2 linked regions of the Homo sapiens genome follow. The protein of the gene in region 1 interacts with the protein of each later gene in a pairwise test. Each region holds a gene or a part of one and is shown on either strand. Other genes may lie near its edges.

Region 1 (3,500 bases):
GTCCTTTTTCAGGCAGTACTTCACGTTAGCACTACTAGGCCTCAAGCATTCACCCATCAATCATGGGTTGTTGTGTTGGCCAGGTATTACATGGCAAGCAGACAGGACTAACACATTCTGGCCTCATGCTGAGTTTCACACAAAGGAAACCTTATTTCAGAAGTCACAATAACCAATTAAAAAAAAAAACAACTATAGATACTGTATCCAAAGAGCTTGAATATATAACCAAGAGGGCATCCTTCCAATATCATCTTCAAAGTGATCAAAAAAAAAAAAAAAAGAGAAAAAGAAAAAAATGAAAGTATAATTATTGGGATGTATACTTTTTGTATTCTTCAGAGACAGTGTTACATTCTGTAAATTCAAACTCAGTCTCAAAAAAAAAAGGGGTTTGAATGTCAGCAGTCATTATCCTATTCATATTCTTGCTTAAAAAGTCCAATTATAACTCATATTTTATTTTAGAAAGAGGAAAGCATAGACAATTAGAGTTTACCTCCCAGATGGTTTGATCCTGAACTTTAGGATTACACACAAGGCAGTGGGAATTATAGGCTATAAGGATCAGGCCAAGATGTATATGGAAGCTCCTGAAAGTGCCACCTCTCACTTGCATTTAATCACAGGCACCATTAGGATAAAATAGTTAAGTTGTGATATTTGCATATTTTCCTTGGTAATGAACTTCAAAGCAAAAGGATATAAGCTAAACTTTCAAAAAGGAACCTCTGCATTTCACTCCACCACACTATATGCCTGTGGAACACACTTTTGCTGATTTGCAGCTCCCTATTAACGTCCAAGTCCAATTGCTTCTTAGCCACATCCTATTAGATGTGGTATCAGTACCAGTCTAAAGCCTGGAATTGCTCCAGAACGGAGTCAGCTGGGGGCAATCTCTTCCATTTAGAAACTGTAATCAAACCCTTTGTAACACAGCAGGTAGCAATACATCAGCTTTCCTTGTCAGGGACAAGCACAGGTCATAAACAGGGAAAAGTTTAGTAAATTACCCAAATCTAACACCATAGCCAACTCCAATAAATAAGGATGGTAACAAATACATTAAAAAGAATATTACCTCACAGTAGGCAATTAGACAATGCCAGATAATTTATACTTCAGTGGCTACAATGTCTCTAAAATACAGCCACTGATGGGCTGGAAGGCAGTTTCTAATGTGCTCAGTAATAACTGGGTGAGGACAATTTTGGCCAAGGGCAGGAGAATGCTGCAAACTGCTGTATGCTGCTTATGTGAGGTGTCTGTTATCAGAGAGCAGAGGCACAAAAAAGTTAATTCACAAGGTTAACTACAGGTGATTTGGGTTTACTATCCTAGACTCACAAGGATGTAACATCAAGTTGAACCTTTTGAGATTAAAAACAGCATCCATCCTTGATTCCTAACTGCTTTTGTTCCTTACTCTTGACAGGCAACCCTTCCTGCTCTATTTTCATATCCTTTTTTTTTTTTTTTAAACCAAGTCTCGCTCTGTCGCCCAGGCTGGGGGGCAGTGGCATGATCTCGGCTCACTGCAACCTCCGCCTCCTGGGTTCAAGCAATTCTCTCAGCCTCCTGAGTAGCTGGGACTATAGGCACACACCACGATGCCTTTTTTTTTTTTTTTTTGTATTTTTAGTAGAGGTGGGGTTTCACCATATTGGTCAGGCTGGTCTCGAACTCCTGACCTCAGGTGATCCGCCCACCTCGGCCTCCCAAAGTGCTGGGATTACAGGCGTGAGGCACCGTGCCCGGCCTCTATTTTCATATTCTATTAAACTATTATTGGTCAGGTACATGTGTGTTAGATTTATTGTATAATAGAATAGTATCACCTATAAACATGGTAGAAAATGCTTCCAAATCCAACATCCTTACATTTCAGAGTACTCTTCTCAATTTAATATTCTTGATTTGACCAAGAATATTAAATGGGTTTAGGGGTTGCCATCTCTACATTATTTTTCAGTCTTTAAGTGTAATACTCTTTATATTCTTAAGATTTTAGATTTTTAAAGATTATCTTAATCTTTTTAAGATTTAAGATTATTGGTAAAACTTGAAATGTAAGAAACACAATCAAAACTGTGCACTGTGTATTTATACTTAATATAAATGTATCCTACAACAGAAACACAACACATTTCTCCATGAAGCATATTGAGATGGAATAAAAATGGATAGATCTATAACTCGTTAGAACATCAACATTCAGACTAATCTCAGAAGCCTTTCTTCTTCAATATCTCCACATAATTTGATGTATACTGACAAAGAATGCTGATAGCTTTGAGACTGTGGAGGTACCTCCTGTATTAAATTCCTCTTATAGCTAGAATTTAAATGACTTTAATCTTAGAGCTCCATTGTTGAATATGGATTCTTCTGCTGCTATAAAACTCATTAAGCAATTTAAGTGTCTCCCATTTTTGATTTGTTTTGTGGGAAACTTCCTTAATACTAGGTCTTTGCTGCATATAAATGAAGTCATAATATAGTTTTAGCACCAAATATGGTAACAGGGCCCCAATTGTTCACTACTTCTAACCAGACTCAGTGATACTAACTTGAGTATTTAGTTAACACAATTAAAGAAAATAAAAAGGCAAAGAGAGAAGTACATGTATCACTAATTACATATGCTACCTGGTCATCTACCTCACCACTAGTCATAACCCAAACCAATCCTAGGGAGCTCTATGGTCCCAGAGTCCCCCCGTGGTTTCCTGTCACAAATGATTTTGGGCTTAACCCGTAACTCTTTTTATTATTTCTGATTATTCATCACCCCCAAGGCCAACTATAGTTTGTATCTTTTCTTTTCTTTTTTTTTTTTTGAGACAAGGTCTCCATCACCCAGGCTCGAATGCAGTGATGCGATCACAGCTCACTGCAGCCTCCACCTCCCAGGCTCAGGTGAACCTCCCACCTCACCTTCCTAAGTAGCTGGGACTACAGCCACGTGCCACCACACCCAGCTAATTTTCTATTTTTTCTAGAGACAGGATTTCGTCATGTTGCCCAGGCTGGTCTCAAACTCCTGGGTTCAAGCAATCTGCCTGCCTCAGCCTCCCAAAGTGCTGGGATTACAGGTGTGAGTCACTATGCCTGGCCTATAGTTTGTATCTTTCTCACAGATATTCCTAGATTAGTTTTAAAATATAGTTGTGTAAATTTGAAATATTAAGGCCAGGTGCGGTGGTTCATGCCTGTAATCATAGCACTTTGGGAGGCTGAGGTGGGCAGATCATTTGAGGTCAGGAGTTCAAGCTCAGCCTGGGCAACATGGCGAAACCCTGCCTCTATTAAAAATATTAAAAAAATTAGCCAGGTGTGGTGGTGGGCACCTGTAATCCCAGCTGCTTGGGAGGCTGGGGCAGGAGAATCACTTGAACCCGGGAGGCAGAGGTTGTAGTGAGCCAAGATCGAGCCACTGCACTACAGCCTGGGCAACAGAGCGAGACTCTGTCTCAAAAAAAAAAAAAAATTGCAAC
Region 2 (3,500 bases), on another chromosome or scaffold:
AATATTTCTAAGTGTATTAACACCTGATTCCTGTAGACAGTTTTTGTTTTTTTTTTTTTTTTTTGAGACAGAGTCTCACTGTCTCCCAGGCTGGAGTGCAGTGGTGTAATCTCGGCTCACTGCATCCTCTGCCTTCTGGCTTCACACAATTCTGCCTCAGCCTCCCAAGTAGCTGGGACTGCAGGTGCCCGCCACCACACCCGGCTAATGTTTTGTATTTTTAGTAGAGACGGGGTTTCACTGTGTTAGCCAGGATGGTCTCGATCTCCTGACCTCGTGATCCGCCCACCTCGGCCTCCCCAAGTGCTGGGATTACAGGCGTGAGCCACCGCGCCCGACATCTGTAGACATATTTATTACCCAGCATTTACCATGCAGTTGTGACTTTTTAAATCACTTATATTAGCACTTAGTTGTTTCCTGCCACTTATCCTAAGTTTGTGCCTTCTTACACAGAAGAAATCAGTGTTACCTGAAAATTTGCTCAAGCCTGCTCTGGCCTTTTTCATTTTTAAAGGTAGTTTTGAAATATACAGTCCTCATACACATGGTTCTGCATCTGCAGATTCAAAACCACAGATCATAAATATTTGGGGGCAAGAAAACAGTAAAAAATAATAGTAAAGACTAATACAGATTTTAAAATAAGAGTATAACAACTATTTACATAGCATTTATATTGCAGCAGGTATTACAAGCAATCTAGAGATTATTTAAAGTATACTGGAGGATGTACATAGTATTATATGCAAATACTATGCCTTTGGGGCAGTTGAGTGACTTGAGCATCTACAGACGTTATCTTCAGAGGGTTCTGGAACCCATCCCCTTTGGATACCTGTAAATCTTTATTTTTTGACCTCTTCAGTGAAGACCAAGGTCAAGAAGAGGTTGCTAAAGACTTGTTTCAGATTATATCTTAGATTTAACATACCACTTGGTATTACTGGAGTTTTACTACATTGAAGCTTAATCTTCGTATCTGTAATTTAGTGTTGCTCCCACGTACTGTGCTGTAGGTCTCTCATTTCCTTGCCTGAATAAAAACCCCAAGTTAGCCATGTAAAATTTTTGTCTTTCTAGACTATCTTATATTTCTCTTTTGTTTTCTACAATATTCCAGTTACTAGCTAAACAAAGAATAGTCTTTGAGAAAGAGTGCTTTTGCTCTCAATTCAGACATTTGTTTAAAAAAAAAAAAAGATGGGGTGGGGGATCCTTGCTATTTTGCCCCAGGCTAGCCTTGAACTTCTAGGCTCAAGTGATTCTCCTGTCCCAGCCTCCCCAGGAGTGGGGATTACAGGCACATGCCAGCACACCCAGCTGTGACTTCTTTTTAGCGTAGCATAGGTCATATAGAAAAGAGCAGAGGAGTACTGTAAGATGAGAGATTTTACTTAAGTTTCTTAATCTAAGAAATGATTAGCACGACATGCTTGGAAAACAGTAATGTAACTGAACAAATGTGGACCATCCTTTTAATTCATTTCGTAAACACTTTGAGTTCCTACTATGCTTTTATTAATATTTGAAATCTTATACATAGGTATAAGAACAGCACTCCTGGAATCAGATGAGCACACATGTCCGACGTGTCATCAAAATGATGTTTCTCCTGATGCTTTAATTGCCAATAAATTTTTACGACAGGTAACTGTCTGTATCCATTTTATGAAAAAATTCTTTTTAACTGATTTAACTGTACTTCAGTGAATACTGCATAACATTTTTCTGCATTATTATGCTTGGTATCTGTAGGCTGTAAATAACTTCAAAAATGAAACTGGCTATACAAAAAGACTACGAAAACAGTTACCTCCTCCACCACCCCCAATACCACCTCCGAGACCACTGATTCAGAGGAACCTACAACCTCTGATGAGATCTCCGATATCAAGACAACAAGATCCTCTTATGATTCCAGTGACATCTTCATCAACTCACCCAGCTCCGTCTATATCTTCATTAACTTCTAATCAGTCTTCCTTGGCCCCTCCTGTGTCTGGAAATCCGTCTTCTGCTCCAGCTCCTGTACCTGATATAACTGCAACAGTATCCATATCAGTTCATTCAGAAAAATCAGATGGACCTTTTCGGTAAGCCTGTGTGTTTTTCACTGTTAGAAACCAAATGAGGTCAATGATGTAGTGTTTTGTTGTTGGTTATCACTTTTAACAGCTTTCTTAGTGGACCACTGTGCTCAGTAATGTGGGATGACTTGTAAGAAGTGACTTAGTCTTATTGGGGGAAGAGGAAAACAAACGTGATTGATTTGGCAAATGAGGATTAAGCATCCTGAGGTCAAATACTACACAGGTTGCCAACCAGCCCCTATTAAACGTTGAATGTTCCATATACCATAACAGCTCTGAACTTAACAGAGGTGGGAGAATTCACTTGTGATCATAATGATAGTTTTGGATAGGAGTAGTTTTGAGTAGAACTAAGAACAGTTTAGATAGGTAGAGAAGAGGGGGTAAAAACACAGGTAAGTAGAGAAGTCAGGAATAGTGATTGTTTTGGAGCATAATTATTATGTAGGAGAATAGTGAAAACTCACAGCCTACCACTTCAGAAATGAGACTTTTGTCCATGTAGTTTAATGTCTCATAAATTCTTTAAAAAAAAAAAAAAAAGGTGTAAGAGGCCCATTTCAGACACACTGAAGCAAAATCTTTAGGATGAGACCTTTACATTTACATTTAAGAAATTCCACTGATCTGGTGGAATTTATTTGGTTGATAGTGGAAATAGGCCCAGAGAGTTCTATGGCTGACCCAAGATTATCCTTTCAGTTTAGTGGTAGAACTAGAGCTAAAACTTAACTCTTAATCCTAGGGGGATTTTTGTCTTCATAGGCCAGACTTTGATTTTAAGTTTTACTATTCTTGCAACTGATTTCTGTCATAACTGTAGTATCTTCTTAAGGAGGTCCTTCATTTTACTTTTCCACTTACTACATATAGAGAACTCTTCAAAGTTTCAGCCTTCTCTCACTTTCCTCAGAAGTATTCATCATCTTTGACTTAACTCATCTTAACTGCAGGTGATGGGTAAACAGCAGCAAACTTTTTTACTCTTAATTGTCCATTTCTGATAATTTTTAATGTATTATAATTTATGTTTTTTAAAGGGATTCTGATAATAAAATATTGCCAGCTGCAGCTCTTGCATCAGAGCACTCAAAGGGAACCTCCTCAATTGCAATTACCGCTCTTATGGAAGAGAAGGTAAATTTTACTGGTGCTTTAATTTGGGATTTTTTTTACAGCAGGGTTTTGTTTTTCTGGCTTTGTTCTTACCTCTTTTTTTTTTTTTTTTTTAACTATTTCTGTTTATTTGTGGTTGTTTCTAAAGGGTTACCAGGTGCCTGTTCTTGGAACCCCATCTTTGCTTGGACAGTCATTATTGCATGGACAGTTGATCCCCACAACTGGTGAGTAAGATCACTTTGGTTTAGACCTTTTTCCCTTTAAAAAATAATTTTAGCTTGATTTAAT

What was found.
Region 2: the proteins of ANAPC16 (region 1) and RBBP6 interact in a two-hybrid assay, tested with the Homo sapiens proteins (one study listed by BioGRID).

The regions. Positions count from the first base shown.
Region 1 is NC_000010.11:72,226,012-72,229,511, reverse strand, and holds part of ANAPC16 (anaphase-promoting complex subunit 16), read right to left. Parts: intron 1-3,500. UniProt on the Homo sapiens protein: Component of the anaphase promoting complex/cyclosome (APC/C), a cell cycle-regulated E3 ubiquitin ligase that controls progression through mitosis and the G1 phase of the cell cycle.
Region 2 is NC_000016.10:24,560,066-24,563,565, forward strand, and holds part of RBBP6 (E3 ubiquitin-protein ligase RBBP6), read left to right. Parts: intron 1-1,546; coding exon 1,547-1,650; intron 1,651-1,758; coding exon 1,759-2,096; intron 2,097-3,133; coding exon 3,134-3,230; intron 3,231-3,357; coding exon 3,358-3,436; intron 3,437-3,500. UniProt on the Homo sapiens protein: E3 ubiquitin-protein ligase which promotes ubiquitination of YBX1, leading to its degradation by the proteasome.